Homo sapiens: one gene and its partners. The protein of the gene in region 1 purifies or fractionates together with the protein of each later gene. This does not show direct contact. Each region holds a gene or a part of one and is shown in the gene's direction. Other genes may lie near its edges. The genes, in order: EIF5A2, GINS1 and GINS2.

Evidence for each region.
Region 2: the proteins of EIF5A2 (region 1) and GINS1 purify together in Homo sapiens (affinity purification with mass spectrometry; one large-scale study listed by BioGRID and IntAct). This does not show direct contact.
Region 3: the proteins of EIF5A2 (region 1) and GINS2 purify together in Homo sapiens (affinity purification with mass spectrometry; one large-scale study listed by BioGRID and IntAct). This does not show direct contact.

The regions. Positions count from the first base shown.
Region 1 is NC_000003.12:170,887,833-170,891,778, reverse strand, and holds the end of EIF5A2 (eukaryotic translation initiation factor 5A-2), read left to right. Parts: 3' UTR 1-3,361; downstream 3,362-3,946. UniProt on the Homo sapiens protein: Translation factor that promotes translation elongation and termination, particularly upon ribosome stalling at specific amino acid sequence contexts.
Region 2 is NC_000020.11:25,414,087-25,417,812, forward strand, and holds part of GINS1 (DNA replication complex GINS protein PSF1), read left to right. Parts: intron 1-3,017; coding exon 3,018-3,116; intron 3,117-3,726. UniProt on the Homo sapiens protein: Required for correct functioning of the GINS complex, a complex that plays an essential role in the initiation of DNA replication, and progression of DNA replication forks.
Region 3 is NC_000016.10:85,686,155-85,690,178, reverse strand, and holds the start of GINS2 (DNA replication complex GINS protein PSF2), read left to right. Parts: upstream 1-1,224; 5' UTR 1,225-1,280; coding exon 1,281-1,370; intron 1,371-2,604; coding exon 2,605-2,719; intron 2,720-4,024. UniProt on the Homo sapiens protein: Required for correct functioning of the GINS complex, a complex that plays an essential role in the initiation of DNA replication, and progression of DNA replication forks.

The DNA.
Region 1 (3,946 bases):
AGGGTTTGTGAGGACCTTTGACTCAGTGACAATCATCATATTGGAGCAAAACATAGAACAAAATCACTATCTCAGAAATACCTTAATTCTCTAAGACTGGCTCTTAGACCTCTCCCATCATGCCTTGACCTCTAAAAAGCCCTTTGTTCCTATCTTCTAAAGGAAAGTATATCATATATGATGATGTAACTGATCTAATCAGTGACTGGAAATAGCATTAGTAACAGAAGATCCCAAGTTTTAGTTGCTTAATTTGTACACACTTTTAAATATTGTCTTAGCCTCGGCAAACCAATTTGGGGAAGAAGCAAGATACTTTAAGAGAAATACAAAGGAAATTTCTAAAGCACAAGAAATAGTGAGGTAGTAGTTAGTCGTCTTTCCTACAACATTTTAGCTTTTGCCCATCTAAAGCACAATTAAAATTAGGCTACATTCTTTCCAGTATTCTATTTAAGTACCTACTACATACTGCTCTAGTTTCTTAGTACTCTGTAATGTGTATCTTAATTGCTACTGGTTGGCATTGTAACTCATAGGAATTCCAGAAAATTATTAATCCGTGCTGCTTGCAGTTCATTCATATGGCCCCTCTTAACCATGCTGGTGTTATGATTCAGTATTAACTCTCAATTAGCATGCCCCTGTTCTTCCTAACTTGTAAAATTTCACATAAATATATTTTCAATTGTGTACAAATTAAGGGTGTACAAATTATAATAATGCATCTCTATCTTCATACTTTGAATGGCAAACGCTATTTATGCATAAATATTTTCATTTTAAGTAATATATGAAGTGTAAATACTCGATATATAAGTATAGATTTTAAAGATATGGGACTTTATTTTCACATAAGTCAATAGATGTTTCTCTAGAACAAAATATTTAGTAAAGCTTTATAAATTATATTAAAAGGAAGCGGGGAACATGTATTTTTTAACATAGAACAGAAGTGACTTCATTCTTTTTAGACATCAGAAATGTTAAAGTTGATTCCCAATATTTGTTGTACTTTTTTGTAGCAAATGTTAAAAATCACGAGTTACCATGTATAGAATGTGGACTGTCATGTTGATATCATTGTACAGTGATAAGCCATTTTTATCTGTATACATTTCACCAATTTATTAACAGGTTGAATATTTGTTTCTTTTTAGAACATTTTATTTATACTGTGAAGACTTTGTTATACCTTATTTGCTACAACATAGATCATATCATTGCTACTTTGACTTAGCATTTGCATCATAAACATAATTATGATGTTTTTTTCATGCTCCCTTCCAGGGGCTCAGTCACTTGAAGAAACTGTTGCTAACCAAGCTCTTGACTCTGTTTCCCTTAATGATACAAGTCTCTGTACCAGCGCTTTATGTTAATTACCAAAACTCTCCTGCATCAGAGCATGATATCTATAATAGGAGATACTGCAATAAAATGATTAGGCTGTAAAATTTGGAGACACAATTTTTCATTACAATGCAATTTGCATGTGCACATGTGCGCACATAACTTTATATGTTAGTTCTTTTTTCCAAACTCCCAACTCTTAAAAGTATTGTAGTCTGTTGGTGCCTCAACTGTTGGTAACTTTTTTTTTTTAAATTTACAACTTTCCACAACTTGTTTTTGTACTTTAAGGTTTCTCAATTAGAATATTTCTAGTTGAGCTGTAATTTGAATGCATTGTTCTCAGGGCTATTTGTGCTAAAAGCTGAAATTTCATTATTTTAAAGCTAATTGCCTGAAAATATATTGGCAGAATTTTCCCAAATTGTAATAACTGTGATACATGCATATAAAAAAATCCTTAATGTCAACACACTTAAACTACATGCTAAATAGTCAAGAAAAAAATGGAAACAGTAGCATCCATACTGGAATCTTGCCATATTTTTTTCATTTTAGAATAGATTTTGGCAGTCTCATCTTAGAATCCTATCCTTAGGATACATCTGAAAGCATTCCTTTGGCATGGACCCCAGAGATAGTTTTGGAGCCAGGCATTGATGTAGAGGTTCACCAAACATATTTAGGGATAATAGATAAATTCATAATGCTTTTTTGGGTACACTGAAATGTTTACATACTGAATTCTGTAATATGAACTAGGAACGCATTTACTATGAGAAAATATGGCTCTTAAGCAGTGTAAGAGTGAAAATATAAGCATATTTCCATTAACAGTATATTGTACTGATCAGCAGCTCTCATTTTAACATCAGTTAGGCATAATATTTCATAGTTTTCAAGCCTTTTTTTTCTGCTAACATTCAGACAAGTAACAGGCAACAAAGATTTAAGAAAAATTTATGGTGGAAAACCTTAAAAATTGAGACAATTCAATCTATTTAATCTATTAAATTTTTTCTCTGAATTGGGTATATGGCATCATTATTTGATTTTAGCAGGGAACATTTGGATTTAGCTTATGAAACACAGATGTTCTATGGGAACATGGCTTGAAGCCAATATGTAATTTAATGTTTTTCCATTAAACAAACATCTGAACACCAACTTAGCTACCAAGTGAGGTCAAGTGCCTGAAAAGTACTGTATACATCTAATAAGCATGTTTTCCTTATGTAAAAGATGCACTTTATGGCAATGCATACCAGGCTTTCACCTGCTAGAAACATACTTGTTGCCAACTTTGCCATCTACCACTATTCTCCTCCTTAGAACAGGTAGAAACCTATTTTACAAAAAAAAAAAAAAAAAAAAAAAGACAGGTTATTGTATTTATATGAAGTCCCTAAAACTGTTTCTTGGTATTGATAGACTTAAGTTTATCTTAGTTCAAGATTGCACTTTTTAAAAAACTCTGGACTATTTTCAGCAATGACCGAACAGCTTGTCACACATCATAGTTGTGATCTTTTTTGAGGAGTTATTTATTGTGGTTAATATCTACTATAAATAAGCATTCTTGTGCTTGTTACAAAGCATAATGCAAATTACTAGTTCTATACTAGTATAATGAAAATGACTAGTTCTATACTGTTATGTACTTTTGTCTTCCTCCCCAAAAAGGAAACAGTTTAGCATTGTCTAAATTCAGTGGCACTTTTTTAGTAATACATTTTTTTTTCTTAGATACAGGAGAACTATTGCTTTTACCTGCAGAAACTCAAATGTTTTCGCTAAAACTTTAAAATTCTAAAATACGTAGTATGGGTATTACTAATTGTACATTTTACATTTCAAAAATAGTTAAAATTCAAATGTTAAGTCTTTGACTTAAAAAACCTTTAAATATAGATAATACCTTAACAATTATAACTTTGTGATATTATTAAAATATATTTGTCTGTTAACTTCATCAGTTGTATTAAATAAAAATAGTTAACAGCTTGCACTATTCTTGTACATATACATCTTTAAAACAATTTCATACCCAAAAATTGTATGACTTAAGCGTATGTCACTTTAAAAGAAAATCTAACTTGTTTTTATTGAGTACTTTTATATTCTAGGTCCTTACGTAGTGCCCTCGCATTATGACTGGGACTATTAATTTCTAAATTTTAGTTTGAGGTTTAGGTACAATTTTATTTTTAAATGTTTAATGTTTTTTAAACTATATAAAATAGTCACTTGGTTCAAAATTCAGCAGGTACAAAAGACTAAAGACATTTTCCCCTCTTCATCCCCTTCCTATGTGTCCTTCCAGAGATATTTAATGTAGGAGAGGGCAATGCTACTTCCCTCACCCCTGATTTCCCAGGGTGTGAGGTGTTTCTTTCCTACAAGCTGGGGTTGCTTTTCCCTTTCCACAACATGAGTGGTGTGATAATTCCCTGAAGCAAACGCTTCACCCTTTTGCCAATCCTCACCATGTCTAATCCACACCAACTGGACATGTTCATTTCTAGGTGGCTCGGTGGTTTCTTCCTTATACACTGTACCATTCTAGAACATCCCTCTTGCTCCCCAACAGGTG
Region 2 (3,726 bases), on another chromosome or scaffold:
GGCTGAGGCAGGAGAACTGTTTGTACCCGGGAGGTGGAGGTTGCAGTGAGCTGAGATTGCACCACTTCACTCCAGCCTGGCGATAGGGCAAGACTCTGTCTCCAAAAAAAAAAAAAAAAAAAAAAAGATGTTGAAATCAGATAACCTTGCATTAGTTTTGGGATGCGATTTTTAAAAATTATCTGTAAAATTATCTGCTCTAGCTGTACAAATTAGCAAAAGTCTGAAGAAATTTGTGCTGATCACTGCTTAATAAATATCTGTTGTTTGGCTGATAAGAGTTGAAAGGAATTAGAGTGGACCTAAAATAAATGACATACCCTAAAATAAAAAATAAAAATAGGCTGGACACGGTGGCTCATGGCTATAAATCCCTGTGCTTTGGGAGGCCAAGGCAAAAGGATCAGTTGAGGCCAGGAGCCTGGACATATAGCAGGACTCTGTCTCTATTAAAAAAATAAAAATTAGCTGGGTGTGGTGGCACACACCTGGAGTCTTAGCTACTCAGCAGGGTAAGGTGAGAGGCTTGCTTGAGTGCAGGGGTTTGAGGCTGCAGTGAGCTATGATCACGTTACTGCACCCTAGCCTGGGTGACAGAAGGAGATCTCCATCTTTAAAAATAATAAATAAAAATAAAAACCTAACAAAGTGAAATACATGGTTCCCACTGTTTATATTTTTATCAACAGTTGCCTTAGTGAGTTTGTTAAAGGAAGAATAGGCAGTTTATTAAATGGATATAAATAGGAGCAGCAGTGATTTCTGATAGTTTGAGTGGAGTTCTCTGAGAACTAGCTATAAAAGGTTTCAGTGTAGTAGGTCCAGAGAGGTGACTAGATTTATTGACTCTTTAGAACTGAGCATGGTAGCTGGCACAGTGGAGAATTTGGGCGTATGACAAACTTCGTATGTTCCTGTGCGACACCAAAGGGAGTCAAGTACTGGATCAAAGTTGAAGTATTCAGGGTCTCAACTGTCTGTGACATGAGGTTTCCTCTTTGGGCTTGTTCGCTACAGTGTTTTTATCAGTTACTTGAATATAGAAATCAGTGTTATGGCTGGTAAGATTTGTGAGGCACATAAAATGATAGGAGCATTTCCAACTCCTGTGTATAAGGAGAGATACAGAAAAATCTTTACAGGTGGACTGAGGAAGTGAACCTCAACAGATTTGCAGTAAATATAAGGCAGATTTAAAGTCCTGAACTCAAGTCCCTAAGCCATTCATTGATTTACTCAAATATGTACTAAACAAATATGTATCAATAAGTGGCTGTGCTATTTCAGTGGTAAACAACAGTCAAGATGGCTTTCCCGGGCTGGGCACAGTGTGGCCCATGCCTGTAGTCCCAGCACTTTGGGAGGCCGAGGCGGGTGGATCATCTGAGGTCAGGAGCTCGAGACCAGCCTGACCAACATGGTGAAACCCTGTCTACGAAAAATACAAAATTAGCCATGCGTGGTGGCGCATGCCTGTAATCCCAGCTACTCCGGAGGTTGAGGCAGGAGAATCGCTTGAACCTGGGAGGCGGAGGTTGTGGTGAGTCGAGATCGCGTCATTGCACTCCAGCTTGGGCAACAATAGCGAAACTCCATCTCAAAAAAAAAAAAAAAAAAAAGATGCCTGTCCCTGGCGCTCACTGTCTAGTGCAGAAGACAGACATGAAATATAGATATGCCAAATTGGGATTCATGCTATGAAGGAAATCAGAAGAGTGCAAGGAGAAAGAAAAATGAATAGAAGGTCTAGCTTAAATTGAGGAATCAGGGAACTTCTCTCCAAAGAGGAGACATTTCAGCTGAGGCCTGCAGGAGATGCAAGTCTTAGGGAGGCAGTGACTGTGGGCATAGAACATTCTAGGTGGAGGGAACAGCATATGCAAAAGCCCCTGAATCATGGAAGAGAATGGGGCACTCAAGAAACTGACACTTAAAGAAGACCTATGTGGCTGGAGTTTGGCAAGTGGCAAAGGATGACACCAGATGAGGTGTAAGTGTGGACAGGTGGTGGTGTGTTTGTGTCTTAAAAGATAATGCTGGTTGCTGTGTGGAGGGGCTGAGAGGTGGGGGAAGCTGGTCACCAGGTTACTAGAGAGGTGACCCAGACTTGGTAGAAAGTGAGAAGGTTATAAATGTTTTGGAGGAGACCCTATAGGCCTTGGTTCAGTAAGGGAATGATTTTCTTGTATTCTCTGTGTTTATGCCATTCGCAAATTCATGATCCAAAATTCTTTATTCCACCTTCCTAGTTTCATCAGACTTTCATAGGGTGGCAGAAGTATATAGAACAGCCCTAGAAGACATGACAGGATGGGACATGTATTTTGCCTGTATTATCAGGGCCTAGCACAGTGCCTGGCATAGAGGCAGGCACTACATGAATGAATTCTTTTTATATGCATATGGTTGCTTAAAAACTCCAAAGTAGATTCTTATTCATTCAAAAGTTACATGTACTTTTTATAGGGTAAAACCAAAATTTTCAGTGTGAGAAATACTGAAGTATAGTACGTACACGTATTTGGAGATCAACAGATATTTGTAAGATGAGTGAAAGACCATTTTGACTCCATTTTACCTCACTTTGTTATAATGAGGATTTGGAAGCTCCACTGGAAGGGAGGTACTATGTAGAATAGCGACATGACGTAAGACCATAACCTCATGTCCATCATGTTAGCTTTGTCTCTTATCTCAGCGTGATAATGGAATCCTGAAAAGTGAATAACACAGTGTCTTTTAGAAAGAATAGAGATTAATCAGTGTGCAAAAATGCAAAGTACCAAATGCCTAAACAAAATGTATCTGGTAGCATGATCTTAGGCAAGTTGTTTAGGTTTTGGCTTTTTAACATATTAATAAAAGCTCTGATGTACAAATAGTTATTATTTGCTTAGGTTAACTGCTAATCACAAATGGATTAAAAACAAGCATGTAACTCAGTTGTTAGTTGGCTTTGAAAATTTTACTTATCCTGAAAAGTACATATTTTTTTTCTTTTTAAATGCTCCTATCAGGAATGAAGCAAAGTCAGGTGGACGAAGTGATTTGATACCAACTATCAAATTTCGACACTGTTCTCTGTTAAGAAATCGACGCTGCACTGTAGCATACCTGTAAGCTTCTCAGTTTTTGCTTGGGGTGGCAGGATTTTCTGTGTGGCTTCCCAGTTGACCATCTCAAATGGGTAACATGAAATCTTAGATCTCTCTCTCTTTGTAAGCATTCTAAATTTTTCCTCTGTGTTTTCATTTTTTTAATTTTTTATTATGAAAAATCACAACACTTTTAAAAGTAGGGAGAATAATACTATAATGAACCCCAGTGGAGCTATCATATGGTTTTAACAATTTTTATTATTTTGCCATATTTTTTTCATCGTGTTTCACTTGTTGGTGCCACACTATTTAAGTGCATCACGGTCTTTCACTACTGAATACGGTAGTGTTCTTACTATTTTTTCTTTGTCTTAGAAATAAGGACCTTTGGCCAGGCACAGTGGCTCATGCCTATAATCCCAGCAATTTTGGAGGCCAAGGCGGGTGGATCATCTGGGATCAGGAGTTCGAGACCAGCCTGGCCAACATGGTGAAACCCTGTCTCTACTAAAAATACAAAAATTAGCTGGGAGTGGTAGCGGGTGCCTAATCTCAGCTACTTGGGAGGCTGAGGCAGGAGAATTGCTTGAATCTGGGAGCCAGAGGTTGTAGTGAACGGAGATCGTGC
Region 3 (4,024 bases), on another chromosome or scaffold:
TCAGGGAGGTTGGAGAGGAGAGCATCCGGTTAGCTGGGGCGGGGGCAGGGGGTGCTTTCTGCTGGAATTCCAAACCCTGGAATCCTCATGTCTCCTGTGATTTTTCTCGCGGGCCTAATTATCAAGGTTTCAAATTCGACTGCAGTCCTAGAATAGCGCTTCACCCCCAGGAAGCTTTTCCGGCCATGACCACCCCATCAAAATCACCTGGCCCTGGATGAAATTCAGCTTTCTGTCCTTTCCACGACTCCGGAATCCCAACTCCCAGGAGCGTGCACACAGACAATGGGCACCCGCTAGGGGATTCTGACACAGGTGAGCTCCAGCCACCGCTCTGGCTTCACCTGCGCCCACTGTACAGGGGCAGCCGGTCCAGCGAGCAGGTGAGTATTTGCTCAGGTGGTGCAAACCTGCCGCTCCTGTCTCATGTGGGGCTCCTGCCGAAGTGCAAATTCTGAGCTCCTGCTCTGAAGTGTCCGAATTGGAAGCTGTGGGGTGGGATGGAGGAATCTGCATTTTTACAGCTGTTTTAAACAATGTGTGCAGAGAGGGCAGAAGATTGTGAAATTAATGGAAACAAGGTCTTCCCTCATCCCTCTATCTGTCAGCCCGGGTGATGCCTAGTCCCGGGCCCGGTGCTGAGTTTGGGCCAATAAATGCTTGTACTCTTGGCCTGGCACGATGGCTCCCACCTGTAATCCCAGCACTTTGGGAAGTCGAGATGGGAGGATCGCTGGAGACCGGAAGTTCAAGACCAGCCTGAGCAACACAGCAAGATCCCAAATCCACGAAAAGTTGTTTAAAAATTAAAATAAAATAAATGCGTTTACTCTTGGCCCCATGCGGAACGCCGGCGTAGAAGCGGCCCGGAACCCCACCCCCGGCTCTTGATTAGGGCCGTTTGCGGCGGGCGCCGGGGACAGGTGAAGGGACACCAAAGCTGGCGCCCGCGGCAGGAGATCCTGACAGCGCCAGGTGCACGCCCACGGGCGGGGCGGGGCCGGGGTGGGGGCGGGGCCTGTCCGCGGGCCGGGGCGGGGCCGGCGCGCAGCCTCCCTCGGCCTTGCCAATCCGCGGGCTCTTCGCGAGCGCGGTCTCCGCCCCCCCGCCCGCAGACAGCGCCTATAGGCTGTCTACCGCCTTCCTATAGGCTGGCGCAGGCCGTCTTCCGGCCGGGGCGGGCTCTCGCCGTGGCGGGAAAACGGCGGCCGCGGCGTCTCCTCCGGGACGCTGAGGGGCCCGAGGAGACCGTGAGGCTCTGGCCTGCAGCTCGCGCCGCCATGGACGCTGCCGAGGTCGAATTCCTCGCCGAGAAGGAGCTGGTTACCATTATCCCCAACTTCAGTCTGGACAAGATCTACCTCATCGGGGTGAGGCCTGGGCCCGCCGTGGGGAGGGGAGGCCGGGCTGGGCGCGTCCGGGGCTCCCGCGTGGCCTTCAGCCCCGGGGTCGCGGGCTCGCCCTGCTCCCGCATCTGCGGAGGCCACCACTCGGCGCTTGACTCGCTCACCGCCGTTCCCGCTTCTCGGATGAGGAAAGCGAGACTGCGCTCTTTGCCAGTGCCCCGAACGCCCGGGTTTACAGGGTTTTTTTGATCTGTTTGGGGGCTTTTTTGGTTTGTTTTTTGGTTTTTGAGGTGGAGTGTCACTCTGTCGCCCAGGCTGGAGTGCAGTGGTGCCGTCTCGGCTCACTGCAGCCTCCGCCTCCCGGGTTCAAGCGATTCTCCTGCCTCAGCCTCCTGAGTAGCTGCTGTTACAGGTGCCCGCCACCACGCCCGGCGCATTTTTGTATTTTTGGTAGAGATGTGGTTTCACCGTGTTGGCCAGGCTGGTCTCGAACTCCTGACCTCATGAGCCACTCGCCTCGGCCTCCCAAAGTGCTGGGATGACAGGCGGGAGCCACTGCGCCCGGCTTATTTATTTGGTAGAGATGCGGCTGGCCTCGAACTCCTGGGCTCCCCAGGCGATCCTCCCACGTCGGCCTCCCAAAGGGCTGGGATTATGGGCAAAAGTCGGCTTTGCCTCTGTTTGTTTTTGTCTTTATCTTTGAGATGGAGTTTCGCTCTATCGCCCGGGCGGGAATGCAGTGGCGCGATCTCGGCTCACTGCGGCCTCCGCCTCCCGGGTTCAGGTGATTCTCCTGCCTCAGCCTCCCGAGTAGCTGGATTGTGAGCCCCCGCGCCCGCCCGGCTTTGCGTTTTCAGTATGAGGGAGGCGCCTCGGCGCTGGGAGTCCTGGAGAAGGAGGGCAGGCTCTGTACCTGCCCAGACCCACCTCCCCGCACCCCAGGACCCCAACATTGGGTGTGTGAAACCTGTTCCGGAGTTGGAGGGTGCAGGCGGGAGAGGGAGCGCCCCCCACCCACTCAGGGGAGACTTGCATCCTGTCCGCGGAAAGGCCAGAAGGACTGAGCCCCACGCTCGCAGGTGTCTCGGAGCCGCTCAGGAGGCGCTTTGTTCTGAGTCTGGTAACAGTTGGGTTTTTATTATTTGCATTTGGACTTCAGCCTCTGCAATGCCTTGCCTCTTATTTGATAGCAGTAACGCACAGTAATGCTTTTTTTGTTCTTTTTCAATCTTACGGGGAATTGTTTTACTTTTGGCAGGGGGACCTGGGGCCTTTTAACCCTGGTTTACCCGTGGAAGTGCCCCTGTGGCTGGCGATTAACCTGAAACAAAGACAGAAATGTCGCCTGCTCCCTCCAGAGTGGATGGATGTAGGTAAGGATGTGGTGGAGACTGGTTGATGCGTGGGTGGGGCTGGGCTTGGGGTGACGCCCTCTCCCACGGGGTGGAGGCATGGGGCCTCCTTCCTGACTAGGTCCGTGCTCCCTCTGTTCCGTTATCTACTGATCAGCTGAAAGGAATACTTCCAGATTCACCTCTCAGCAGAGTCTGCTAACCACTGTTAGTAATGTCATGTTAGGTTTTGGTGTGTGTGAAAGTTGTAGTTTGTTTTTTGAGACGGGTCTGACTCCATCACCCAGGCTGGAGAGCAGTGGTGCAATCTCGGCTCAATGCAGCCTTCACCTCCTGGGTTCAAGTGATCCTCCTGCCTCAGCCTCCCAAGTAGCTGGGACCACTGGCGTGCGCCACCACACCCTGCAAATTTTTGCGTTTTTGTAGAGATGGGGTCTTGCCATGCTGCCCAGGCTGGTCTCAAACTCCTGGGGTCAAGCGATCTGGCCACCTTGGCAGATCTGCTGGGATTATAGGCGTGAGCCACTGTGCCCAGCCTATATTTTAATGTAAGATATTTCAATTTGCTTTAAAATAAATATATGACCTTAAATAAGCATTTGTTTTAAAATTTTAAAAATAAGTATAGATTAGCATGTTGAGAAGCAGTTATAGAGAATGCATGAAAATAATATATCACAATAAGGTTGAATATTATTCAGCTATAAAAAGGAATGGAATTCTGATACATGCTACTGCGTGGATGAACCTGAAACATCTTAAAGATCTTGCTGAATGAAAGAAACCAGGCACAAAAGGCCGCACACTGTATCATTCCATTTCTATCAACTGTCTAGAATAGGCAAATCAATAGAGACAATGTAGATTAGTAGTTGCTTAAGTATGGGGGTCTTGCTTTGGGTGATGGAGGGATTGTGGAGTTTCTTTTTGGCATGATGAAAATTGGGATTGATGGAGGTAATGGTTGCCCAAGTCTGAATATACTAAACACCATTGACTTGTACACTTTGTTTTTAATAGCCCACAAGTGCTACTAAAACTTGTATACTTTTTTTTTTTTTTTGAGACAGAGTCTCGCTCTGTCGCCCAGGCTGGAGTGCAGTGGTGCGATCTCGGCTCACTGCAAGCTCCACCTCCTGGGTTCACACCATTCTCCCGCGTCAGCCTCCCAAGTAGCTGGGACTACAGGCGCCCGCTACCACGCTCGGCTAATTTTGTTTTTGTATTTTTAGTAGAGACTGGGTTTCACCGTGTTAGCCAGGTTGGTCTCAATCTCCTGACCTCGTGATCCACCCACCTCAAAACTTGTATACTTTAAATGGCTGA